4 linked regions of the Homo sapiens genome follow. The protein of the gene in region 2 purifies or fractionates together with the protein of the main gene of each other region. This does not show direct contact. Each region holds a gene or a part of one and is shown on either strand. Other genes may lie near its edges.

Region 1 (6,964 bases), on a different chromosome or scaffold from region 2:
AGAATTGCTTGAACCCAGGAGGCGGAGGTTGCAGTGAGCCAAGATCACGCCACTGCAGTCCAGCCTGGGTGACAGAGCGTGACTCCATCTGAAAAAAAAAAAAAAAGAAGAGGCTGGGTGCACTGGCTCACGCCTGTAATCCCAGCACTTTGGGAGGTCGAGGTGGGCGGATCACAAGGTCAGGAGATTGAGACCATCCTGGCTAACACGATGAAACCCCGTCTCTACTAAAAATACAAAAAAAAAAAAAAAATTGGCCAGGCATGGTGGCGGGCACCTGTAGTCCCAGCTACTCAGGAGGCTTAGGCAGGAGAATGGCATGAACCCGGGAGGTGGAGCTTTCAGTGGGCCGAGATCGCGCCACTGCACTCCAGTCTGGGTGACAGAGCAAGACTCCGTCTCAAAGAAAGAAAGAAAGAAAGAAAGAAATCCAGAGTCGACCAGGCGTGGTGGCTCACACCTGTAATCCCAACGCTTTGGGAGGCCAAGGTGGGTGGATCACTTGAGGTCAGGAGTTCGAGACCAGCCAGACCAACATGGTGAAACCCTGTGTCTACTAAAAATACAAAAATTAGCTGTGCGTGGTGGCACATGCCTGTAATCCCAGCTACTAGGGAGGCAGAGTCAAGAGAATCACTTGAACCTGGGAGGCAGAGGTTGCTGTGAGCCGAGATCGCACCACTGGACTTTAGCCTGGGCCACACAGCAAGACTCCATCTCAAAAAAAAAAAAAAAAGAAAAGAAAAAAAAGAAAAACAAGAAAGAAATCTGCAGAGTTGGCTAGGAGTGGTGGCTCATTCCTGTAATCCCAGCACTTTGGGAGGCCAAGGCAGGCGGATCACATAAGGACGGGAGTTCGAGACCAGCATGACTAACACGGAGAAACCTCGCCTCTACTAAAAATACAAAATTAACGGGTGTGGTAGTGCATGCCCATAATCCCAGCTACTCAGGAGGCTGAGGCAGGAGAATTGCTTGAACTTGGGAGGCAGAGGTTGAGGTAAGCCGAGATCACACCATTGCACTCCAGCCTGGGCAACAAGAGCAAAACTGCATCTCAAAAAAAAAAAAAGGAAAAGAAAAGGAAATCCGCAGAGTTGTGACTAAAACTTCTGGGCTGCTGGTAATCATTTGTTTCTTAATCTGCATGCTACAAACTGATGTATTCAATTATGAAAATTTACTGATCTACACACTTGTAATTGTGTGTGTGTATTATCCTTGGACCAATTTTTTTTTTTAAAAGAGAGAAAAAAGAGGCCAGGCACAGTGGCTCACACCTGTAATCCCAGCACTTTGGGAGGCCGAGGCAGGCAGATCACAAGGTCAGGAGCTCGAGACCAGCCTGGCCAACAAAGTGAAACCCCATCTCTACTAAAAGTACAAAAAAAAAAAAAAATTTGCCAGGCGTGGTGGCGGGCGCCTGTAATCCTAGCTACTCGGGAGGCTGAGGCAGGAGAATCGCTTGAACCAGGGAGGCGGAGGTTGCAGCAAACCAAGATCACACCACTGCACACCAGCCCAGGCAACAGTGTGAGACTCTGTCTCAGAAAAAAAAAGAGAGAGAGAGAGAGAGAGAGAGAGAGAAAGAAGAAGGCCATTCTGGTGACTGTATGGAGGATAGGCTGTGGTTGGATAAGAGAAGCAGCAAGAACCAGGCAGAAGGCTGTTGCTATGGTCCAGTTGAGACATGATGGTGTCTCTGCCCAGGAGGGTGTGGTGTGGTTAGAAGTGATCAGATTTGAGATACAATTTGCAAGTATAGCCCCTGGGACCTGCAGATGGATTGAATGTGTGGAGTGAGGGAAAGAGAGGAGCTCAGGGTGACTCCTGGGTTTGGGGCTTGGCCGATGCTCTCCCTGAGCAGCCTGAGTTTCCCTCTGATTCATTTCTGGTACACCAGGCATAAAACAAGGTCCTTGTAACAAGTGACAGAGACAATCATGGTGCTGAGGGAAGAAGGGTGAAGGTGTATGGGGCCCACTCACCTTGATGACATTCCTTGTGCTGAAGCGGGTCCTGGTGACCTGGTGCCAACAGTGCCGGACCTGCCAGACCAGAAAGAGGCAGAGGACAAGCAGGTTGCCACAGCACTGAGGGTCCCTGCAGCTGTGATTCTGGGAGAGCAGGCCCTGCACTGGCTCCCACTCAGGGCCATGGAATGGCCCCACCACAGCACAGGCACCCAGCAGTGACAACAACATGGCAAAGCTTAGATCAGGCAGATGGTGTTGGGAGCTAGAGGGCAGGCCTGGCACATCTGATGCAGCCAGCTGCAGTAGGATAGCCGCCACCTCATAGCACCCCTGTCACTGAGGCCACCTCACAAAGGGGGCTGATGCCCCAGCCTCAACTCTGACCCTGGTGCCAGGCCTGGTTAGCATGCTCTTGGTGCAGGTAAGGACAGTATTGGGGAATTGTTCAAAAGTAATTAGGAGGAAGAACTTGTTTTAAACAAACCCATCCTCTGGAATGAAAAGATTAAGTTCCCTGAATGTGTGATGGGGTGATATAACCTGCGGTCTGCTTGATTTCTTTCTTCCTATGAAATACTTGGATCTGCCTGTCCTTCTATTATCAAACATTTAATGAACACTGTATTGAATACATGTATTCTTGTTTAACCACTCAACATGCCTTTCTCGTTGCTTGCAGTATCCTGATTTCCTGTGGGGGAATTACTTTTCCCATCTTAGGATCAGTGTTGGTGGGAAAATAAATGTTACCCTGAAGACTCTTTTACCCAAAAGTTCTATTCAAAATATTAAATATCTGAGCAGGCAGGGACGTCAGCCAATTATAATGAGCCAGGCCTTAACTGTTTAGTGGCTGGAATTTTTTTTTTTTTTTTTGAGACCGAGTTTCCACTCTTGTTGCCCAGGCTGGAGTGCAATGGCGCGATCTCGGCTCACTGCAACTTCCACCTCCCAAGTTCAAGCGATTCTCCTGCCTCAACCTCCCGAGTAGCTGGGATTACAGGCATGCGCCACCACGCCCGGCTAATTTTGTATTTTTAGTAGAGACGGGGGTTTCTCCATATTGGTCAGGCTGGTATCGAACTCCCAACCTCAGGTGATCCGCCCGCCTCAGCTTCCCAAAGTGCTGGGATTACAGGCGTGAGCCACCGCACCCGGCCCTCTTTTTTTTCTTCTTTTTTTTGAGACGGAGTCTCACTCTGTTGCCCAGGCTGGAGTGCAGTGTGCAGTGGTGCGATCTCGGCTCACTGCAAGCTCCGCCTCCGGGGTTCACGGCATTCTCCTGCCTCGGCCTCCCGAGTAGCTGGGACTACAGGCGCCCGCCACCATGCCCGGCTAATTTTTTGTATTTTTAGTAGAGACGGTTCACTGTGTTAGCCAGGATGGTCTCGATCTCCTGACCTAGTGATCCGCCTGCCTCAGCCTCCCAAAGTGCTGCGATTACAGGCGGGAGCCACCGCACCCGGCCGGCCTTTTTTTTTTTTTTTTTGAGAGTCTCGCTCTGTCGCCTCAGCTGGAGTGCTAGAGTGCAGTGGCATGATCTCAACTTACTGTAGCCTCCACCTCCGGGGTTCAAGCGATTCTCCTGCTTCAGCCTCCTAAGTAGCTGGGGTTACAGGCGCCCGCCACCACGCCTGGCTAATTTTTGTATTTTTTAGTAGGGACGAGGTTTCGCCATGTTGGCCAGGCTGGTCTCGAACTCCTGTCCTCAGGTGATGCGCCCGCCTCGGCCTCCCAAAGTGCCGGGATTACAGCCATAAGCCGCTGCGGCCGGCCGGTGGGTTACTTTTTGAATGTTTAATTCATTGTTTCTGCCAATAATTTGTACTAGGCAGCTCATAAGAACGCCAAAGTACGTTCCTTCTTCGACACAGGGCCAGTTTCCGCGCCAGTGCCCCCGTAGAGGGCGGGGCCCACTCGCTCGCGTAGCGTCACCTTCGCTTCCTGCCGCGCGGGGCCATTTCCGCTGCTGCTTCTGTGAGTTTTTCCGGTGCACGCGAGTGCTTCTGAAACGTCAGCTGCGCTCCCCTAGGAGTGCTGAGCCCGCGGAACCGCAGCCATGGTGAGTGCGTGCGCCGGCCGAGGGACCGGGAAGCGGGAGACTCAGGGTTGCGTTCACTCCCTAGCCTGTTAGATGGAGGCTTAGAGCCTGCGCCGTCTCATCCGCCGGCGTTGGGTCTTAACCGCCGGGCCCTTAGTTAGAACCCCAGCAGCGGCGGGGTCCCAGCAGCCTGGCCCGAGGTTAGAACTCAGGAAACCTTAGGATCCCCGCAGCTGTGTTGCTTTGCCGCACGGTCTGTTTGCTTGGCAAAAGGCCTGCAGCGAGCGGAGGGGGCATGGCCCAGCCTGGGAGAAAGAGACCAACCCACGTGGGAGAGGGCAAAAAGTTGGGTGAAGAAAACTTGGCTCCAACTTTTTTTTTTCCTTGTTTCTTTTCATACGAAATCTACGATGGCGTGGGACCCTGGGATTCGGATCAACCTCTCCTACCCACCCTACCTCACCCCACCCCCGTTGCTGGGGTTCAGGAGGAGATCTCCCATGGGTCTGCGCTTAGTGCCCGCCGCGAGTCACACGCGCCAGGGACCTAGAGGAGCCTTTGGCATTTGGGGGCTGTGGGGAACATGAAGTGAGCGCGACTCACGGCCTGGAGTGCAGGAAAGGCTTCTCCTGCAAGGCGGTGGCTTCAAAAACCAGAAGTCTGGTAGCACCACGTGCGGCGTCTCTAAACTCTTGGTCGTCTCTGACTTTTAAACATCTAGGGAAAGTTCTAAAACGTGTGTCCTGGCGTAGTAGTTTTGGTTGGCACTTGGTGAGGAGGGAAGAATTTGTAAAGCACTGTAACTTCTATAGTTAATCCTTCCAGTGGAGCTTGGATCCCGGCGGTAGCACTCCCCACAAACCTCCTCCCATGCATTTTGAAGCTTAGTACGTGGCTGAGCCTAGAACTTGAAGCTTCCAAACTCAGTGCTCGCTTTAACGCAGCTCCCTGAAACGTTTTGGAATCGGATGGTCTCAGGTTGAACTTTGCAGTTTTCCTCAACTGTAAAATGGGGATGACAGTGCATGAGGGTGTTGTGAGGATCAAATGAAATAAAGCATGGTAAACATCTAGTCCTGATGCTTGGTACAGAGTAAGCACGCAGTATTTGTTGTTCAATCAAAACCTTGCAAGTTTTGGCTGTCTGGTGTACAGCGAAACCAAACTGATCATGCTAGGTAGGGATTTAGGTTGGCTGGTGGTATGATATCATTCGTTAATTTATTTAACCCCTGAAGAAATTGAAAGGCAAATAAATACACCCTAAGCAAGTTTCAATTAGTGTTTATAAGCTAGTTTGGTTTTAAAATTGAGTTTAACTTTTTTGTTGACTAATAGTGAAACATTTAGGTATTTAATGATTGTTCAGATTCCTGAAGTCTTCCTCTTTTATGAATTTGATGTTTATTGAGATTTGAGAATCCTGATTTCCAGAGAATGGGTTGTTGGAAACAATGGCAATTTTTAAAGTTTTTTTAAATTGACATATCATAGTTGTACATACTTTGGGGGTTCCATGTAATATTTCTAAGTATATCTATTTTAAAACATGCAACAGGGCCAGGCGCGGTGGCTCATGCTTGTAATCCCAGCACTTTGGGAGGCTGAGGCGGGTGGATCATGGGGTCCGGAGTTTGAGACCAGCCTGGCCAACATAGTGAAACCCTGTTTCTACTAAAAATTCAAAAAAATTAGCCAGGCGTGGTGGTGGGCACCTGTAATCCCAGCTACTTGGGAGGCTGAGGCAAGGAGAATCGCTTGAACCTGGGAGGCGGGGGTTGCAGTGAGCCAAGATCACACCACTGCACTCCAGCCCGTGTGACAGTTTGAGACTCCGTCTCAAAAAAATAAATAAATAAAACTTGTGATAAATTATTAACCAAAATTTCCAGCTGGGCACGGTGGCTCACGCCTGTAATCCCAGCACTTTGGGAGGCTGAGGCGGGTGGATCATGAGGTCAGGAGTTCAAGACCAGCCTGACCAACATGGTGAAACCCCATCTCTACTAAAAATACAAAAATTAGCCAGGCGTGGTGGTGCGTGCCTGTAATCCCAGCTACTTAGGAGGCTGAGGCAGGAGAATCACTATAACCGGGGAGGCGGTGTTTGCAGTGAGCCGAGATCATGCCACTGCACTACAGCCTGGGTGACAAAGCAAGACTGTGTCAAAGAAAAAAAAAATCCCTACTGTAGTATCAAATAAAACATTTGTATGGCCGGACGTGGTAGCTCACACCTGTAATCCCAGCACTTTGGGAGGCCGAGGCGGGTGGATCACCTTAGGTCAGGAGTTCAACCTGGCCAACATGGTGAAACCCCCATCTCTACTAAAAATACAAAAATTAGCTGGGCGTGGTGGTGCATGCCTGTAGTCCCAGTTACTCGGGAGGCTGAGGCAGGAGAATTCCTTGAATATGGAAGGCAGAGGTTTCGGTGAGCCGAGATTGCGCCACTGCACTCCAGCCTGGGCGACAGAGGGAGATGCCGTCTCTTAAAAAAAAAAAAAAAAGATAAAAGAATAAACTCCAAATCAGTAGAGGGGAAAATAGTGCAAATGCAATGATAAATCCAGAGAAAGGAAAGAAAGAAAAAGAAACAGAACAAGTGGAACAAATAGAAGGCACAAAAGAAGGAAAATTTGAAACCATTATACCAATACTTAAATATGTAAAGGGACTGAGTGCTCCAGTTAAAAGACGGGATGTGGCCAAGCACTGTGGCTCAAGCCTGCAATCCCAGAAATTGGGAGGCTGAGGCGAGAGAATCTCTTTAGCCCAGGAATTGGAGACCACCCAGGGCAAAATAGTGAGATCCTGTCTCTACAAATTTTTTTTTTTTTTTTTTTGAGACAGAGTCTCGCTCTGTCACCCAGGCTGGGTGTGCAGTGGCACGATCTTGACTCACTGAAACCTCTGTCTCCTTGGTTCAAGCGATTCTCCTGTTTCA
Region 2 (7,027 bases):
CAGAAGAATAGCTTGAACCCAGGAGGCGGAGGTTGCAGTGAGCAGAGATTGCGCCATTGTACTCCAGCCTAGGTGACAGAACAAGACTCTGTCTCAAAAAACAAACAAAAAAACCAAAGATTTAACATCTACACTAAGAATGAATCTTCCATGAAATTGTGATGAAAGAAAAAGTAGTTCATGCTAGTTTTGATGTTGCAAAACTCAAAAAGCAGGTTACAACCCCTGTGTGCGGTAAGTGCTTAGTTAAGATAAAAAAGGTATTACATTTGTGTGTGGAAGACACGAAGACAAATGTGTTCCTACTGACAGCAATCACATTTGGTACTATCCGAGGTTTAAAGTATCCACAGGGTCTTCTGGAACATAATCCCTGTGGGTAAGGGGGAGACTACTGCCTTCAAATTAATTGAGATGGCCTATATTCCAAGTAAAACATTTGTAATAATTAGGTTCATACCAAAATTATTCCTGAAACAGATTTCAAAACAGAAAACTACGAATGTAACATTATATAAATCAGGGAAAAATGTAAAAAATAAAACAAGCCCTAAATGTTAACTGCTAAATTATTGATTTCAAGAGTACTTACATTTTGTTTGCTTTCTCTGGAGTTTCAAATTCTTTCCATAAACTATCAACCTCTTGAAGTTTCTTCTCATTTAGAACCTGTAATAAAATGTTTAAATAGTTTTATTTAAATGGTACAGGTGAGGCATATACAGCTGCATTCTTCAAATACAATTTTACATGTAAAATGAAGGTGTAGAAGCTATTTCTTTCACTAAGATAATGAACTAGTTTTCTTACCCTGCATGTAATTTTGGTCAAATTACTAGTTCGAATTGCCCATTTAACAGCTAAATGGAATTCAGATCTAGTCCAGTCAGCTGTAGTACAGTGGCTATTCAGTCTAGAATCTACCTGGCCTCAAGAGATATTCCTGCCCCAGCCTTGGGCCGTAGCTGGAGCTATGGGGTCCTAGGGGGTAGGGCAGGGAACCTTTCTTTTTATTTTTTTGAGATGGAGTCTCGCTCTGTAGCCCAGCCTGGAGTGCAGTGGAGCAATCCTGGCTCACTGCAACCTTCACCTCCTGGGTTTATGAGATTCTAGTGCCTCGGCCTCCTGAGTAGCTGGGATTACAGGTGTGCACCACTGCACCTGGCCGAGAACCTTTCTTTTAAAAGAGCCATTAATCCCTTTACAGTAAAGTATTGTAATCATTAAAAACTTTAATTTGCGCCAAGCATGGTGGCTCACATCTGTAATCCCAGCACTTTGGGAGGCTGAGGCAGGCGGATCACCTGAGGTCAGGAGTTCAAGACCAGCCTGATCAACATGGAGAAACCCCGTCTCTACAAAAAAAAAAAAAAAAAAAAAATACAAAATTAGCTGGGCGTGGTGGCACATGCCTGTAATCCCCGCCACTCGGGAGGCTGAGGCAGGAGAATTGCTTGAACCCGGAGGCAGAGGTTGCAGTGAGCCGAGATTGCGCGACTGCACTCCAACCTGGGCAACAAGAGCAAAAAACTCCATCTCAAAAAAATAAAACAAAAAACAAAAAAAACTTTTGTCTACTTTCAATAGATTATATTCGTTATTTACTGCTATGATCATCCTAACATGAAAGTATTATGGATTTCTCTAAAACTATCGTCAATTGTGAGACACATCTAGATGTGAGAAATTTTTTAAATGCAAAAGAAACATAGGGTACTTTAATCAACAATATACTTATCAACATTTAGGTATATATTCTCCAAGACTTTGAATGTCTGTGCAACACATGTTCATGCATACTTTTAGGAATCACAGTAAATGGCTTTTTTTTTTTTTTTCTGAGATGGAGTCTCACTCTGTCGCCAGGCTGGAGTGCAGTGGCGCAATCTCGGCACACTGCAGCCTCCGCCTCCCGGGTTCAAGCGATTCTCCTGCCTCAGTCTCCTGAATAGCTGGGATTACAGGCACGCACCACAACACCCAACTAGTTTTTGTATTTTTAGTAGAGACTGGGTTTCACCAAGTTGGCCAGGCTGGTCTTGAACTCCTGACATCAGGTGATCCACCTGCCTCGGCCTCCCAAAGCGTTGGGATTACAGGCGTGAGCCAACACACCCAGCCGCCTTGTATTGTTTTGAAGCAAGACCTAGACATTTAATTTTTACCTGTTAATATTTCAGTTTGTATCTATAAAATATAAAGACTTGTTTTAAAACTAGTACTGTTGTAACAACAATGCTAAAGATTGCAATGGTAATAGTTGTATACTATTTCTACTTAGAAATGGAAATTATCTTAAAATGATAAAACTTAAAATGGATTTCTGTATACAAATATTTATCATTACCCTGGCTGAAAAGAAATGATTAAAAATTTGAGACAAATAAAAACTTTGAGACAAATGTAATACAGAAAATGTAGCAATATCTCTAACTTTCTTATTTAGATGGTCTTTATTAGCAATGTTTTCTTCAAGATGTTGCAGTTGGGAACACAATGGTTTTATTTGTCATAGTAATGGTTTTGGCTGACATAACATAGTCTTTGAAGACCTTTGTGTGCTCATGAATTGCCCTGATTTTATCACATTTCCTTTGTTATTTTAACTTCAGTTTTAGAATGGTGATAGTATTTTTTAATTAATTTATTTATTTATTGAGACGGAGTCTCGCTCTGTCGCCCAGGCTGGAGTGCAATGGCAGGATCTCGGCTCACTGCAAGCTCCACCTCCTGGGTTCACGTCATTCTCCTGCCTCAGCCTCCAGGACTACAGGCGCCTGCCACCACACCTGGCTAATTTTTTGTATTTTTAGTAGAGATGGGGTTTCACCGTGTTAGCCAGGATAGTCTCGATCTCCTGACCTCATGATGCACCCACCTCGGCCTCCCAAAGTGTTGGGATTACAGGCGTGAGCCACCCCGCCAGGCCGAAAGTATCTTTTAAATATGGCAATTTTGTTACCCAAATGTTATCTTCAAATATACTTGCTTTTCAGCTAGAAAAAATGTGAATTTTACTCATGAGTCATATCCCCTATTTGATACATGTCCTCTTAAAAATAGTGAACTTCAGTTATGGTTAGCTGCATTCTCTGAACAATTTCAAAAAATTTTAATCAGTGTTTTCAGTATAGTCATGAGACTTGGTGAGGTGTCTCTGGATTCTAAAACTTCATGATATACAAAGTTAGAGCTATTAGTTTATAAATTGTTAATACCAACTCTAGGCTTTGTAGTTGTTTATTGCTTTGTGTGACTCTAAGTTTTTCTAGTTTGGGTTATTTTTACCAACATATCTAATTCAACCATGTGTGATTAAATTTATACAGGCTGGGCACGGTGGCTCATGCCTGTAATCCCAGCACTCTGGGAGGCTGAGGCGGGCGAATCACGAGGTCAGGAGATCGAGACCATCCTAGCTAACACGGTGAAACCCCGCCTCTAACTAAAAATACAAAAAAATTAGCTGGGCGAGGTGGAAGGCGCCTGTAGTTCCAGCTACTCGGGAGGCTGAGGCAACAGAATGGCGTGAACCCCAGGGGGCGGAGCCTGCAGTGAGCTGAGATCGCGCCACTGCACTCCAGCCTGGGCGACAGCAAGACTCCGTCTCAAAAAAAAAAAAAAAAAAAAAATTATACATCAGAACAAACCCCTAAAATCATCTTGTCACTCATCTAAGTTTTATACAACTTGCAACATTGTGTTTCTCTTACTGAAAATAATATATAACCAGACTAGAACTGCGTCTTAATGTGTAGATGTGCTATATTATGGACTTGATAAATAATGCTTATTAGCAAAGTATAGTTTTAAATTTACTAGCTGTGTTGTTTTTCCAGAGACAGGGTCTCGCTTTGTTGTCCAGGCTGGAGTGGAGTGGTGTGGTCCTATGTCACTACAGCTTCAAACTCCTGGCCTCAAGCGATTCTTCTGCCTCGGCCTCCCAAGTAGCTAGGACTATAGGTGCACACTGCGACATCTAGCTCTTTTAAAAATCTTTTTGTAGAGACAGGGGCTTGCTTTGTTGCCCAGGCTGATCTCTAACTTCTGGACTCAAGTGATCCTCTTGCCTTGGCCTCTCAAAGTGCTGGGAGTGCAGGAAGGAACCATGGCGCCTGATCCAGCTGGTTTTTTAAATAAAAATATATGCATAATATCTGTGCATACTCTATTTCACAAAATTTAACATGCTATTCTTTTTTTTTTTATTTTTGAGACGGAGTCTTGCGCTCTGTCGGCCAGGCTGGACCGCAGTGGCGTGATCTCAGCTCACTACAACCTCCACCTCCCTGGTTAAAGCAACTCTCCTGCCTCAGCCTCCCAAGTAGCTGGGATTACAGGCACATGCTGCCATGCCTGGCTAATTTTTTTTTTTTTTTTTGTATTTTAGTAAAGTCGGGGTTGCACCCTGTTGCCCAGGCTGGTCTCGAACTCCTGAGGTCTGGCAATCTACCTGCCTCAGCCTCCCAAAGTACTGGGATGACAGGCGTGAGCCACCACACCCAGCTTATGTTATTCTTTTACACTCCCAATTGACCTGTCATCAATTGTAAGACATCCCAATTTTAGGGATGTTAAATATGGGGGTTGTGCCTTTTAGGATTGAGCCCATCCTATCTAATACTTGGGCAGCTGATACAGAATATTGGTGAGGGTATATGGAATTAAGAATTTTAATCACTTTTTTTGTTTTTTTTTGAGACAGTGTCTCGCCCTGTCACGCAGGCTGGGGAGTGCAGAGGCGCGGTCTTCTCACTGCAACCTCCACCTCCCTGGTTCAAGCGATCCTCCTGCCTCAGCTGGGACTACAGATTTGGCGACACACACCACCATGCCCGGCTAATTTTTGTATTTTTAGTAGAGACGGGGTTTCACTATGTTGGCCAGGCTGGTTTCAAACTCCTGACCTCATGATCTGCCCACCCCAGCCTTCCAAAGTGCTGGGATTACAGGTGTGAGCCACCATGTCCAGCCTCCTCATTTTCATTTTTAATTGATTGCTTGAGACTTTGTGTGGTTTTTGTTTTGTTTTGAGATGAGGTCTCACTCTGTTGTCCAGGCTAAAGTGCAGAGGCTCAATCACAGCTCACTGCAGCCGTGACCTCCCTCCCACCTCAGCCTCCTGCAGCAGCTGGGACTACAGGCAAGCACCACTGTGCCCAGCTAATTTTTTTTCCGCCATGTTGCCCAGGCTGGTCTGCAACTCCTGGGCTCAAACAATCCTCCTGCTTCACCCTCCCAAAGTGTTAGGGTGACAGGCGTGAGCCACTGCACCCAACCTCTATGTTTTGTGTAAATTATTTGATGCTAACTTTTAAGTTTCACTTCCACAGACAATATGAGCAAGTTAATATTTTATGAAACTTGTTTAAATACAGGATAAAACTGATAATTAGTTTAAAATGTGCACTGCTCAAAAAGAAACAAATCCATACACGCAACAAATGTGAAAAAGCTCTTCGGTTAGCTTCAGAAGCATTACACTAAGTGAAAAAAGCCAAACACAAAAGACTAAAATACTACTCCACTTACATGAAACTTCTAGAAAAAATTATGCAAAAAGAAAGCTGAACAGTGGTTGTCTAGAGCAGGACTAACTTGAAAATGGGCATGAGAACTTTTTGCAACAAAGTGTACTATAAAACTGGATTGTAACTAAAACCTATAGGTGAGTTATACAGTATGTAAAGTACACCCAATAAAGTTAGAAAAAATATATTGCTCAGTACTTAGGTTTTATATAGACATTTGGTATGTACATCAAAAATCTTTCTCCAAACCTTGAGAAAATGAAGTGACACAAAATGCTATGCTACACAGCTACACTGTACAATATAACCATTAAAATTCAAGTAAGTTAAAATTCACTTCCTCAGTCCTATCAGTTACATCTCATGTGAAATGGTTATACGTACTAATGGCTACCACATGGAAGAGCAGCTGAAGGAAGTCTGGTATGAGCAAGACTAAAATCTTATGCTGTGTGCCACGTGACACAAGGACACAGGTGGAATTTCTTTTTTTCTTTTTTTCTTTTTTTTGAGACGGAGTCTTGCCCTGTCGCCCAGGCTGCACTGCAGTGGCGCGACCGCAGCTCATTGCAACCTCTGCTCCTAGGTTCAACTGATTGTCCTGCCTCAGCCTTCCAAGTAGCTGGGGTTACAGGCGTGAGCCACTGCTCTCGGCCACAGGCTGAATTTTTATAATATCCTAGAATTAATCACAACAGTTCCTTTACACAATGTCTTTACATTTATATATATATAACCCTGTTAATGAGCAATAACTTTTTGGAAGTGTTTTCCTTTTGAATCGCTCTAAACACATAAGTGGGCAGAACACCGTACCTCATGGCTGTAATCCCAGCACCTTGAGGCCAGGAGTTTGAGACCAGCCTAGGCAACATAGTGAGACTCTGCCTCTTAAAAAAAAAAAAAAAAATTTAGGCCAGGCATGGTGGCTCACGCCTGTAATCCCAGCTACTTGGGAGGCTGAGGCAGGAAAATCGTTTGAACCCAGGAGGCGGAGGTTGCAGTGAGCCGAGATCACACCACTGCACTCCAGCCTGGGCAACAGAGTGAGACTCCATCTCAAAAAATAAATAAATACAAATACAAATAAATAAATAATTAGCCAGGCATGGTGGCTTGAGCCTGTAGTCCCAGCTACTCGGGAGGAGGTGGGAGGATCACTTGACCCAGGAGGCCAAGGCTGCAATGAGCCATGATCCTGCCACTGCACCCCAGCCTGGGTGACAGAGCAAGACCCTGCCTCAAAATAAATTTTAAATACATAAACATGAATTTGTATGTGTACATGGGTTATACATAAAATGTTTTCCTCACTGTAAATGGAAGTTTAAAAAAAACTTCAAGGCCAGGTGCAGTGGCTCACGCCTGTAATCCCAGCACTTTGGGAGGCTGAGGCGGGCAGATCACCTGAGGTCAGGAGTTCGAGACCAGCCTCAACATGGAGAAACCCTGTCACTACTAAACATACAAAATTAGCTGGGCGTGGTGGTGCATGC
Region 3 (7,027 bases), on a different chromosome or scaffold from region 2:
AGTCATTTGTTACTTTATTGTTTATATTTTAACTTTTATTATGTGTCACATTTTTCTGACTAAACTGTAAGTTGTTTGAGATTAGGAGACTGGGAGTTAAGCATTTCTATTTTTATATTTACTATTCTGCCTGTGTATTTAAGAAGCAATTACTGATTGATTTCTCTTCCCATTGCACTGAGCTGAGTACTTTACACATAATAGGTGTTTATGAAATATTTGCTTAAATCAGTGGGGAAAAGAAAAGGAAAGGAAGTGGGAAATTCATCCATTCTTCCTTTCTCAGGTTATCTTAGATATGAGAACAAATACAATCTGTTGGAACCCTATGGAAGCTTTCATTTTTACAGCAGCAAATGAAGATTATAAGTAAGTTTCCCTCTTTTAAAAACTTGTGTATTTCTATCATGAATGGCTTAATTGTATAAGTCGTACTAATAAAATATATACCACTAGGTAGGTATACCTATAAAGTTTGAAAACTGTCATCTGTTTAGCTTTAAAAAGTTTTCCAAATTGGAGAAGAACTTCTTAGAAAAGTATTTATTTCGTCAGTATTTAGAATGATGTAGACCAGGGACAGTAAACAACTCGTGGACCAAATCCTTTCTGTTGCCTGTTTTTTATAAAGTTTTATTGGAATATGGCCACACCCACTTACTTATTTAGATATTGGATATGGCTGCTTTTGTGCTATAATGCCTGAGTTGAATAGTTGCAGCGGAGACCTTATGGCCCACTTGCCTGAAAATGTTTAACATTTGGCCCTTTACAGAAGAAGTTGGCTGATGTTTGATGTAGGTCTTATAAATAATGACTGAACCATACATGTTTTAATGGAAATGAAAATATCTGCCTGCAATGTTTGTATTGCGGTGAGTATCAGGTAGCTGATGCTCATGTGGTCATGTTATCAGCTATCACTGTTCAGTCAGATGGAAGAAAAATTATAGTTATCTTTTCAGTATCCATATGAGGTAGGTGGGACATGCATGTTATCCCCTTTTTAAGATATTAAAGCGGGGAGATTAGTCTCCCAGGGAGGAAAGAGTATCTTATCTTTTTTTTTCCCAAAGCATTTATTATAGCGCTATGCCTTTGATAGATTCTTAATACATGTTTTTTTTAAGAAGGCAGAAGTTTGTTGGTGGATTGAACTTTAGATCTTTGTATTGTTTTATGTTCCACTATGTAGATTTGGAAGCAAAAAAGTAGTAGTGTTAGCTCATAAAAGGATTTATTATATGATGTTTTAGTGGTACCAACTAAAAGCATCTTTTATGACTTTCTGCTAAAAAGAGGTTTAGTCCAGGAGTTTGAGGTTACAGTGAGTTGTAATTGGGCCACTGCACTCCAGCCTGGCCAACAGAACAAGACCCTGGTGTCTTAAAAAAATAAAAGAAGCTCAGTTAGACTCTCATTAACTAGCAATACCAAACCACAGTAATTGAAGCTTTTTTTTTTAACCTTTATTGATGTTTTGAAATTAAGTGGCATTGTTCCAGTTAAAGGCAATAAAAGACAAGAGTAATACAGCATTATTGTGACCAACCTCATTAAGATTTCTAAAGAATGTTCTAATAAGCTATTTTAGCAAGGTACCGTTTTTCAGAGTGTCCTCGGAATTTCTCATTCCTTGCCTTGAAAAGAATTGCATATGCCACCTGAAACAAAGAGCATATCCCTTATAATAAGTGACTGTTGGAGTATCATAATTGCTCTTTGAAAATGATCTTGCTTTTGTATCCCTTTTCTATATTTGTAAGTATTTTTTTCTTTTATTGCCCTTTAGATATTCTAGTCATTCTGAATTAGAAACCTAAGTTCAAGTCTAGGCCGACCAGTAATTACTGTATAAACTTGGGCAAGTCATTTAAACTAACTCTATATCATAGTTTCAGCATCTGTAAGGTGAGGGTTAGAATAGATGATCCCTAATGAATCCTATAATGTGGAACTTTGTTTATTTAAAGGTTTTCCATGTACACAAATTGATATGCTTAGAATTGGAATTCTTATCATTTTTCCCATGTAGAAATAAAGCATCTTACTAAAAAGCAGTTTGCTGGAACCAAGCAAACCTAGCTGAAAACCACTGTTCTTAGGCAGGAACTGTAAAGCAGTTGTCAATGTCTTACTACTAGTAATGTTAACCTTGATCATTTGGTTAGGGTGGTGTCTGCCAGGTTTCTCCACTAAAGAGTTACTTTTTTTTCCTTTTGTAATTATTATATATCTTTGGGGAGATACTTTGAAACTATGTAGATATCCTCTTCTCAGACTTCTACTCACTAATCTTAGCATCTTCAAGTATTTTTATATTAGGAACTTGGTCACAATATTGCTGTATTACTTTTGTCCATTGTTCATGTTGGTTCATTTGAAGCACTATTCTTTTAGCCATTAGATTAAGAATTTTTGAATCTTGAAACTCATGAAGTCATTGTTTTTACCAATTGTGCATAAAGTATAGTTTCTCATTTTGATTCACCCTTTGAAAGGCCATGTTCACTCTTACATATCACCAGTAGGAGTATAAATTAGTGCAACTTTGTTGGCAGTGATTTGGCAACTCAAATCAAGCCTAAAAATGCTCATGCCTTTAAGCTTAACAATGCTACTTGTAGGAATCTGTCCAGATTTAATTGAACCTGTCCCATTCAGTTAAAGATTGAATGTTAAAAATCCAAACGTTGGGAATTTAATAAGCATTATATATAATAAAATGTTGGAAACTATTAAAATATAGGGAAATAAATTATTTGAACTTATATATACAGCCATTAAAATATTTTCAAAGATTGTTTAATAACATGGGTAATGCTCATTAATATGCTACGTGAAATATCAGAATATAAAGCTTTACATAACATTTCAATTTTATTAAAAGTATGTATTTAAATAGTATGGTGAAAAAGGTTTTTTAAAAAATTATGCTGTACTAAATAACTGGCCTCTGGGTAGTAGAATTCAAGGTAATTTTTGTACTCTACTTTTTTTGAAATTTCCACATTTTCTACAATGAGATTTATAGGGTGGAAAATGTGTTGGTATATATATAAGTGGAGTCTTAAGGAATCATAAAAACTGTTGAAATTTTTCCTTATCCCTCACCTGCTTGTGTACAGCATTGAGCTTTTTGTTTAGATGTGCATTGTTTTGCAAATGGTTCTTGTTTTCAGTGGTATCTTTTAGTACTGCATATGGCATCTTTCTAGAAATATGTGTCAAATATTTAAAAATTCTTTTACAGCTTATATACTTTTGATATGCGTGCACTGGACACTCCTGTAATGGTCCATATGGATCATGTATCTGCAGTGCTTGATGTGGATTACTCTCCCACTGGGAAGGAGTTTGTGTCTGCTAGTTTCGATAAATCTATTCGAATCTTTCCTGTAGACAAAAGTCGAAGCAGGTATGTGCCTACCAGTAAGCCATTTATATTCATATGTCACTTAACAATGGGGATGCATTCTGAGAAATGAGTCATTGGGCGATTTCATCATTGTGTGAACATCATCAGAGTGCACTTAAACAAAACTAGATGGTATAACGTGTTGCACACCTAGGCTGTGTGGTCATATGATATGGCCTGTTGCTTCTAGACTACGAATCTGTTCAGCATGTTACTGTGCTGAATACTGTGGGCAATTGTAACACAGTGGTATTTGTTTATGTAAACATATATAAACACAGGAAAAGTACAGTAAAAATCCAGTATTATCTTAATGGACCACTGTCGTATATGCAGTCTCTCATTGACCAAAATGTCATATGACTATTTTTGTTTCATTTTTCTTTGTCCTGATTATTATTTATCTTTTCTGAGAGGGTACCTGAGTTTAATAAAGTTTTTTGCTCCAATACAGTTTAAGAAAAATTAGTAATAATACTTTACATTTGTTATTTTTTACTTAGTCAAATCCAACTCTGTATGCCAAACCAAAAATTAAAAAAGAAATAAAAGTAAGTTTAAATTGTCAAGACCGTTCTCCCTCTATTTCACTTTAGTAGGTATATGGCTTGGTTGATGAGAGGTTGAGAGGTGGGAGATTTGAATACTCAGCTGTCCCATAGTCTCGTGTGTGTCTCATTTTGTAAGCACATAGAGTGTGATTCTAATATTTAAGATTTTTATTGTGTTTTGTATAGTTTGGCCCTTTACTACATATTATATGTTATTAAATACAGTATCTATTTATACATCTATTATATCTTATTTTTGTAAAGAGGTAGTTTACAGAAAGTGATGGCATTTTAAGGAGTTTGCAAGGGGAATTTTGTTCTCGAGTTTTCACTTTACAGACTGACTTTAAAAACTAAGTCCTGTATAGATACAGCCCCCTGTATAGTGAATTATGGTTTACAAAGAGCTGTTATACACATTCCCATTGTTCCTTAGTAATGCTTTAGATGTGTTCCTGGAAGCATCCATAAAATAAATCCAAATAAATGGAAATAATTTTTCTCAAAAAATTATGATAATTGGATGATCATGGTCATAGTCAATCTGCTTATCTAACTCTTTGCTCTTTTACTTGTGATATTTAAGTCTTTTTCCACTGTAATTTGAGGAAGCCATATGGATTTCTACACCATGTATCGTCATTGTCAGCAGATAATTATCTTCATCACTGTTTATCTGATTATGAAGGTGCTTCAGTTAGAAGCATACTGACAGGAGTGTTCTGATGACTTTGATCTTCATTTCATCATTTCTGTTGTAGAGCTTCTGCTGTGTGTTCCTATGTGACTATTGCTTCCTTTGTTGCTGCCTTGATATTCTCCAAATTGTCATGAGTGTTTTTTTGGCATTATTCACTTAGGCCCAAGGCAAGACTAATAGCTTCCATATTTCTCTCACCTCTGGAAAATGTTGAGAATCAAGAGAATATGGTCCTCCATCATTTCTTGGCACCACAACTTCCAAAGGTAGTAGGATAGTATTTTTCCAACATGGTACATAAGTAGACAAAAGAATGAAACGAGAACAAAGAAAAAAACAGGACTGTGTAGTTACCTATGATCCCAAGGGGCCAGCAGCTGAGTTCAGGCTGAATTATTCCAAAGCTAGTGTGGACAGCTAAATGTAGGTCTAGCTAGAAAACTCACATTATTCCAAAATTGTATAAAAGGGTTCTTATATTTCATTTCTAAGAAATTGTCTCCTGATGTCATTTGGAGGTTTTGTAATCACAGTCTTAATATGTGTTAACGTCCTGTTGTGTTTAGATATAAATGGTGTTCCCTCTGACCTTTGCCTTTATCTGCTTGAAAGCTAGTTCTAATTTGTTTCTGTGGTTTGTTTCCTATCATTATAAACATCAAATAACTCATGCTTGGGTGAATAATCTGTATTTAAAAAATATTTTCCTTTAAAAGACCTTAAAATGGCTAAAGCATATTATTTTTAAAATAAATTTTGAGTAAATTTTTTAAAACTACAGTTAAGTCAGTATTTGAAAGTAGGCTTCTGTTGGAAGTTCATTCAGTATTTACTGAGCAAACAAGTAAATTAATAGTGTTCACATGGAAAAATTAGTGTGACTGTGTATATAAAGAATTTAAGCCTTTAAAAATGTATTTATCTCCTAATAGTAGAACTTTTGGTGAGCTTAATAAACTTAGCATATATGCAGACATAAACATATCTAGAAGTTAAGAACTCAGCATAGTTTACCATTGGGGAGGATTCTCAGTTACTTAAGTGACTAACCGTTGGATCTGACTGGTCTACTGCATGAACAGATTATGTTTAATGGTTACGGAAACCTGATTGAATTTCCCTACTTCAAATGCATTATACTGCTTTGGAAAAAAGGGCTTCTTAGGTATGTGGAGATTATAAGAAATGAGTCTTCAAAAGCAGAGCACTGAGCGGGAGAAGAAAAAGCAGTCTATCTCATCTAGTTTTCATTTTAATAGGACGTTCTTTTTAATCATCCCCTCTCTTTTAAAAATGAATTTCTAATGGTTTATCAAAGTGCTTAAAACATACCTATCAGAAACAGTGTAAAAGACCAGTTTTGTGAGTATAGTCGAGAGATTTTTTTTTTTTTTTTTGAGACAGAGTCTGGCTCTGTCAGCCAGGCTAGAGTGCAGTGATGCCACACGGCTCACTACAGCCCCTGTCTTCTGGGCTCTAGTGATCCTCCTACCTCAGACTCCTGAGCAGCACCACACCTAGCTAATTTTTAAAATTTATCTTTAGTAGCTATGGGGTCTCCCTGTGTTACTCAGGCTGGTCTCAAACTCCTGGGCTCAAGTAATCCTCTCACCAAAGTACTGGGATTATAGGCATGAGCCACTGCACCTTGCCTACTTTAGAGATATTTTTTATAGATATGAATATTTGATTTAGTCATTCTGTTTGAGTTTTATTTTACTGTGCATAGTTTATTGAGCCTGTTTCCTTCCTCTTTATATACTCTGCATTTTGAATAATTTAATCCAGATGCAGAAAATTTATTTCTCCAGAAGTTTCATCTTACTTTTTCTGACCTTGTATTTTACTTGCTTTTTAATGCCTTTCTTAACACTTACTAATATAGTATCACCTGTGAATTCTTCTAGCATATTTCACAGCCTTTCCAAATAGGTATGATATTTGACATCTCCATTTATTAAATGATTCTTTTTTTTCTTTTTTTGAGATGGAGTCTTGCTCTGTTGCCCAGGCTGGAGTGCAGTAGCACGATCTCGGCTCACTGCAAGCTCCGCCTCCTGGGTTCACGCCATTCTGCCTCAGCCTCCCAAGTAGCTGGGACTACAGGCGCCTGCCACCATGCCTGGCTAATTTTTTGCATTTTTAGTAGAGATGGGGTTTCACCTGGTCTCGATCTCCTGACCTCGTGATCCACCTACTGCAGCCTCCCAAAGTGCTGGGATTACAGGTGTGAGCCACCGCACCTGGCTCTATTAAATTATTCTTACCTCAACTTATCAGACACTTCTGTAGTCCTCCCTTCCTTTTCACACATGTAAATCATCAACTCACTTTAATTAAGCTTTTTTTTTTTTTTTT
Region 4 (7,027 bases), on a different chromosome or scaffold from region 2:
GATAGACTTACCAGCCTTTGTGTGTCTGAGAAAGTATTTTGCTTTCAGTTTTTGGAAGATGCTTTAATGGATTTAGAATTCTAGGTTGACAGTGTGGTTTTTTGCTTTTTCTGTTTTCTCCAGTACTTTAAAGACATCACTACACTTTCTTTTCAGTGGCATTGTTTCTGACGCCAGTGTCTACTGTCATTTTGTGTCATGAATATGGTGTTTCTTTTCTTCTCTGGCTGCCTTTAAGATTCCCTTCATTACTGGTTTTTACCGATTTTATGGTGATGTGCCCTTTGTAGTTTTCTTTGTGAGTCTTGAGCTTGGGTTTGTTGAACTTACTGGATCTATGGGTTTATAATTTTTATCAAATTTGGGAAATTTTTAGGGATGTTGTTGTTGCTTGCTCCTGTCTCGCCTCTCCTGAAGGGACTCCAATGACACCTAATTTTGCCAGTTGAGGTTGTCTCACAGCTCATTGATTGTTTGTTTGGGTCTTATGTTTTGTGTGTTTCAATTTGGATAGCTTCTATCGCTGATTTCGTTGAGTTCACTATTCTTCTATATTGTCTAATCTGTTAATTCTATCAAATGTATTTTTTCAAGGTAGATACAGTTTCCATCTCTAGAAGTTTGAGACTGTTTACATCTTTTTTTCTTTCCTTGTGTTTGTGCTTTTCTTTTCTTCCTTGAACATACAAAGTATATTTCTAAGAGCTGTTTTAACATTCTTATTGCTGATTCTGTCGTCTGCATCATTTCTGAATCTTTTTTCCCTACTCTTTATGGATTATGTTTTCCTGTTTATTTGCATGTTTGCTAATTTTTTATTAGATGTTGGACATTTTGAATATTATGGTGTTGTGTGTTGAGTATTATTTAATTTAGAAGAACCACGACTGGACTAGCCTCAGGGTTCAGCATATACTCTCCTAGAGTACCACGGAATTATTTGGCTTCTGAGGATCACAGTTCAGGCCGCACATTTTGGTACTTGTTTTGCTCTACTTGATTCATTAGTTGGAAACAAAAGCAGTACCAGATTTTCTATCTGTAGCAATATATTTAAATCTGAGGACAGAGAAATACCTTTATTTGTATTAGTAATTTCTCTTTCTGTAATCTGAAGGGGAATGAGAGCTAACATTCACTATTACGTCGGGCTTTATTTGTGTGCATGCTCTTAGGGAGTCCTTCCAGCACCTTATTTTACAAATAGAGGTCGTCTACTTGACCTTGGCCACTATTTTCTTTTCTTCTTCCATACGCTGGACATTTTAGTCATCTGTTATGTAGCCATAGCAGTTACATAAGTTTTGAGAGTCTGTTATATGCGTGGTTATGTGCTGGGCCTCTTTTGAGAGAGAAAATAAATATCCTTGTTTGTTGACTGCTCTGTATTTGGCACAGTGACTGACAGTTATCACTCCTCTTTTATGGATTAGTACGCTGAGGTTTCAAGAGGTAGAATTAAATGTATTAATTAGGATTCTTGGTTGCAAATGACTAAAATCCAGCTCAGATTGCCTTAAGCAAAAAAAGAAATTATGTTGGCTCTTTTTATTGGGGGAAAAATACTCCAGGCACAGTAGATTTCAGGTGCATCTGGATCCAGGTGCTCAGTGTCCTCAGAGGTCAGCCACTCTGTCTCTTAGTTCTGCTTTCCTGGGTATTGGCCTAATCTAGAGCGTACTCTTCCCCCAGGTGTGGAGAGTTGCCAGTTTATCAGCAGCTTCAGCCTTATATTCAGCCAACTCAGTCATTCACTCAGAAAGATTTCTCTCTCAACAGTTCCAACAAAAGGTCCTGAGTGATCTATTATTGGCCCGACTAGAGCAGCGTGTCACTGTGATGCCACTAAAGCATGGTACAGTGGCCAAGGATATGGAGGATGTAGGCATGTATGGGGTGAGGGGCAAGAGTGACTAAGAGTGACACAAGCTTAAAAGGAAAGCCAGGGTTATATTATCAGAAGAAAGGGAACGTATGTTGGGTAGGCAGAAATAACCACTACTTAATTAACTGGCCCAAGGTAATTCAGATAGAGGTAGAACTAGGATTCTGTACATACCTAGTTATTCGTACCCTAAAGCCTCAGAACCTGGTGCTCTTAACTGTTAAGTCACACTGCCTCCCTATTTAGTTACTATTTGTTGAATGCCAGCCTTCTAGGAGTTTACAGTCCTGGGGATATATGAGAAACATAAAACATTTGTGAAACAATTGCTGGATTGTGTAGTCCTACTGTTTTATTCAGAAGAGGATGGAGGGTTTTTAAATGAAGGGAACTAAAAGATATGTAATTATGGTTGTTATTATTAATACTCAATTCAGAAGTGTTTATAGGAAATCCTGGGTTTCAGAATTTACTAGCATAAATGTTGATATGCTGTATTTACTTTCCACAGTATTGGACCAGGTACAGACATTTCTCCCACAGATGGCACGGGCAAATGAAAAGCTAAGAAAAGAAATGGCAGCTGCACCACCTGGTCGTTTCAATATTGAAAACATTGATGGGCCTCATAGTAAAGTTATACAAATGGTAACTATGCTTTGTTTTCATATGGTGAAATTACTGGTCTGCCTGTCACCTAAGAAGAAGAGAACTTTTCCATTTTATTTTCAAGTTTTCATTTTCCTGGTGTTAGCTCATGTTTCCAATGTTGTATAGGTACATAGTCATTTTATGATTTAGTCATTTTAGTCATATGATGTCACAGGAAGGTTTTTTTTCCTAAGTCAAATGCTACATTTGTTATTCTGAAGCATTAATTTACTCGATGTCCTAACTGGGTTTTTTTCTGTCCAAGCCCCAAAAGAGGTAATCATAGCCTGATTTATTGAGTATGCAAAAATAAATGATGTGTGGAAGAGAGCAATTGATTACATAAGCTATGTGCAAAAATGTTCTCTCAGTTTATACTCATATCTTGTTTCTGCAGTGGAATTCCGTTTATAATATCTGTGTCTGGACCAAGCTGAGACAATTGTTAATAATATCTAATTCATTAGCCATTCTATTCAGCTCTCCCTCCAGAATAGATCCCAAATCCAACCACTTTGTACAACCTCTGCAGTTCCTTTGGACCTTTGTTGGCCCAGGTAATTATGGCCTCTCCTTTGGAGTATTGCAGCAATTTCTTAGCAGGTTTTCCTGCGTTCACTGTGCCTTCCCTGGGGTCCGTTGTTCACACAGTTTGGGACCTGGGGGCTTCCCATCACGTTTCAAATAAACTAAGTCCTTCAAAGGGTCCATATGATCCTGCCTGCAGTTCTCTATCTCAGAGGTTCCCAACCCCCAGGCTGTGGACTGGTACTGGTCTGTGGCCTGTTAGGAAGCAGGTCGCACAGCAGGAGGTGAGCGGTGGGTGAGAGCGCATTACCACCTGAGTTCTGCCTCCTGTCAGATCAGCAGTGGCATTAGATTCCAAAAGGAGCGTGAACCCTATTATGAACTGTGCATGTAAGGGATCCAGGTTGTTGTGCGCTCTTTATGAGATTCTAATGCCTGATGATCTGAGGTGGAACAGTTTCATCCCCAAAACATCCCTGCCAAGGTCCGTGGAAGAATTTTCTTCCACAAAACTGGTCCCTGGTACCAAAGAGGTTGGGCACTGCTGCTCTGTCTGACCTTATCTCCTACACAGTCCTCATTTACTGCCCTCCAGCACCAGTCTCACTGCAGCCGGTCTTCTCCCCTGCGGTTTTCTCAGGTAGAATGCTTTTCCCTAGATTTCTCCATTTCGACTCCCTCTGTTTCTTTTCAGTCGTCACCTGATCAGGAGGCCTTCCCTGATAGCTGTATTATTATTTTATCCTGCTTTATTTTTCCATATTTTCACAACCCTACATTATGCTTTATATGTATTTGTTTATTGCCTTTCTTTCGCCTCTGGAACAAGAGTCAACAAATGTTTCTGTAAGAGGTCAGATAGTAAATACATTAGGTTCTGTGGGCCTTACTGTCTCTGTTGTGACTGGTGAACTCTGCTGTCATAGTGTGAAAGCAGCCACTGACAATACATACATGAATAAGCAAGGGGAAAACATTTTATTGGGGAAAAAAAACCTCCAGGATTGGTGATTTCAGGTGCACCTGGATCCAGGTGCTCAGTGTCCTCAGTGGTCAGCCGCTCTGTCTCTTGGTTCTGCTTTCCTAATGTTGACCTAATCTAGAGCATGCTCTTCCCCCAGCTGTGGTAGGTTTCTGGTTTATCAGCAGCTTCAGCCTTAGAGTCAGCAACTCAGATTTCTCTCTCAACAGTTCCAACAGAAGGCCCCGAGTGATCGCTTATTGGCTCAATTAGAGCAGTGCGTCACTGTGTATGGGTGCTGAAATGAGAATTTCATATAATTTTCACCTTTCGTGAATAGCAGTATTTTAATTTTTTTCCCCCAACCACTTAAAAATAGAAAAAACATTCCTACTTTGTGAGCTGAACAAAAGTAGGCGGTGGGCAGGATTTGGCCTGCAGGTTGTAATTTACTGGTCTCTGCCTGAAAATGTAAATTTCACCAAAGCGAGGGGTTTGTTTTGATTTTTTTATTGTTATTGAGTCTCTAGTACCTAGTGTAGTGCCTAACTCATGTTAGTATTTGCTGAAAGAATGTTGTTGAATGTGTTTAGGGTATATAGAATTGGGCCGTAGCAGATATTTTAGACACTTAGAGTAAATTTAAATCATCATTATGACAGACCCTGGTAACTAAAAATATAAAAGAGCCATGTTGTATTAAAAACATTTCTTATCCTTGTGGCCTGGTGTGCTGTCTCATGCCTGTAATTGCAGCGCTTTGGGAGGGCAAGGTGGGTGGATCATTTGAGGTCAGGAGTTCAAGACCAGCCTGGCCAACAGGGTGAAACCCCATCTCTACTGAAAATACAAAAATTAGCTGGATGTGATGGGGCACACCTGTAGTCCCAGCTACTCAGGAGGCTGAGAGGCACAAGAATTGCTTGAGCCCAGGAGGCGGAGGGGGCAGTGAGCTGAGATCACACCACTGCACTCCAGTCTGGGCAGCAGAGCAAGACTCTGTCTCCAAAAAAAACCAAATTCTTATCCTTTATGTTTCAATATGTTTGCTGAATGTTGGTTCTTCCCAATATTGTTTTATTACGACTTTTTAAGGAACTGCTCTGAAATAGATTTCCTGTCCACTACTTTTTGCAGGATGTGGCTTTGTTTGAGATGAATCAGTCGGATTCAAAAGAAGTGGACAGTTCAGAAGAGAGTTCACAAGACAGTTCAGAGAACAGTTCAGAATCAGAAGACGAAGATGACAGCATCCCATCTGAAGTCACCATAGATAACATTAAGCTTCCCAATTCTGAAGGTGGAAAAGGCAAGATTGAAGTTTTGGACAGTCCAGCAAGTAAAAAAAAGAAATAGTCAAATAAATTATCTGAAAAGAAACAGGTGACATATGTCTGCAAATTCTGTGAAAAAGAATGTGATTCACGGGTTCTTTTGCTTTTCAGGCACCTATGGTGCTTTTATATGTTAAAAACTTTAGACAAGTTAAATTTGACAGAGTTTCTTTGGGCAAAGAATGATTAATGAGTTAGGTAGCATTGTAAACTGAAAGGGGTTCAGAGACCTCCGCTCTACAGCAAGGAAAGTGTGCTTTTATCAGCTGAACACAGAAGTAGAGTACAGGAATAACTTGATGGGTTACAGCTAGGTGTTTGCCTAAATAAGGCAAAGAGGAGACCTAAGGCTGCCTGATGTCCCATAGGTATGGTCTGATCTAAGGAGATCTAAGGCTGCCTTGTCCGATGGGCTGAGGCTTGGCTGTTTGTGATTGGCCAGACTTGGCTATTTGTTATAAAAATACACTCCTGAGTTAGGTTTTGGTGTGTAGAGTACAGGAATAACTTGATGGGTTACAGCTAGGTGTTTGCCTAAATAAGGCAAAGAGGAGACCTAAGCCCAGCATGTCGTCCACTGTTTGGGATGCCTGCAAACTAACCATTAGCTCCTCCTGCAAACATCATGTGTTCTGTTCCCTTGAGAAATTTCTTTCATGCATATGGTGGCAGTGTCCAAAGAAACAATAGTGTCAGCTACAAATTGTATTGAATTTTCTGTAGTAGCAAAATCTGGAAAAATAGGTACAACATTCAGTTTTGTTTAGCACCATACATAACCCCCAACATGAGCAAAGAGGAGATCTAAGGCTGCATGATATCCCATTAAGTGCTTTTGTTAAATGCTTTCAGAGGGTGGCTCCTACCCCAGGAGGTCTGGTTGGTCATAAAATAAGATTTTTCCCTATCTGTGCATTAGTTTTAAATTCCATATGACTAGCACCCAACCACTACAAAGAGTGAGTCCCCAGGAGCCCCACTGTAATCTTTCCTCAGTGGAAACTAGCATATCTTTTTTTTTTTCGAGATGGAGTCTTGCTCTGTTGCTCAGGCTGGAGTGCAGTGGCGCGATCTCAGCTCACTACAAGCTCTGCCTCCCGGGTTCACGCCATTCTCCTGCCTCAGCCTCCTCAGTAGCTGGGAGTACAGGCGCCCACCACCATGCCCGGCTAATTTTTTTTTTTTTTGTATTTTTAGTAGAGACGGGATTTCACCGTGTTAGCCAGGATGGTCTCAATCTCCTGACCTCGTGTTCCACCCTTCTTGACCTGCCAAAGTGTTGGGATTACAGGCATGAGCCACCGTGCCCGGCTGGAAACTAGCTTATCTTTATTTTCTTCATCTATTCCAAGGTTGGTGCAAATTTCAATTGCTGACCATTTTAGACTCTGATAATAGGAGGTATTTATGGGGACTTTTGGGGAAGCTATTTGGAAGGCAGGATTGAACCATGCCAAATAGCAAGATCCTAACCAGTGGGGAGCAAAATGGAGTAAGCATATTTTCTGTAGACCAATACAGGCAGACCCTCTGAGGCTGGAAAAGAGGGCTACCTAGTGGTATTTGAGCATCAGTCAGTTCAGTTCATCCACTGGTACATCTGCATAGCTCCTGAACAAGGTCCAGGAGGAAACTTACTTTTTTATAGTTCCCCTCCTTTTAAAAAGA

What was found.
Region 1: the proteins of NOP58 (region 2) and SNU13 fractionate together in Homo sapiens (co-fractionation; 3 studies listed by BioGRID and IntAct, with this or other methods). This does not show direct contact.
Region 3: the proteins of NOP58 (region 2) and DCAF13 purify together in Homo sapiens (affinity purification with mass spectrometry; 2 studies listed by BioGRID, with this or other methods). This does not show direct contact.
Region 4: the proteins of NOP58 (region 2) and NOPCHAP1 purify together in Homo sapiens (affinity purification with mass spectrometry; 2 studies listed by BioGRID and IntAct, with this or other methods). This does not show direct contact.

Annotation. Positions count from the first base shown.
Region 1 is NC_000022.11:41,685,868-41,692,831, reverse strand, and holds the start of SNU13 (NHP2-like protein 1), read left to right. Parts: upstream 1-4,035; coding exon 4,036-4,038; intron 4,039-4,504; coding exon of another isoform or gene 4,505-4,604; exon of another isoform or gene 4,605-5,114; intron 5,115-6,964.
Region 2 is NC_000002.12:202,268,755-202,275,781, reverse strand, and holds part of NOP58 (nucleolar protein 58), read right to left. Parts: intron 670-7,027; coding exon 593-669; intron 1-592. UniProt on the Homo sapiens protein: Required for the biogenesis of box C/D snoRNAs such as U3, U8 and U14 snoRNAs. Part of the small subunit (SSU) processome, first precursor of the small eukaryotic ribosomal subunit.
Region 3 is NC_000008.11:103,432,373-103,439,399, forward strand, and holds part of DCAF13 (DDB1- and CUL4-associated factor 13), read left to right. Parts: intron 1-286; coding exon 287-369; intron 370-3,253; coding exon 3,254-3,418; intron 3,419-7,027. UniProt on the Homo sapiens protein: Part of the small subunit (SSU) processome, first precursor of the small eukaryotic ribosomal subunit.
Region 4 is NC_000012.12:104,989,316-104,996,342, forward strand, and holds part of NOPCHAP1 (NOP protein chaperone 1), read left to right. Parts: intron 1-2,396; coding exon 2,397-2,533; intron 2,534-5,162; coding exon 5,163-5,381; 3' UTR 5,382-7,027. UniProt on the Homo sapiens protein: Client-loading PAQosome/R2TP complex cofactor that selects NOP58 to promote box C/D small nucleolar ribonucleoprotein (snoRNP) assembly. Acts as a bridge between NOP58 and the R2TP complex via RUVBL1:RUVBL2.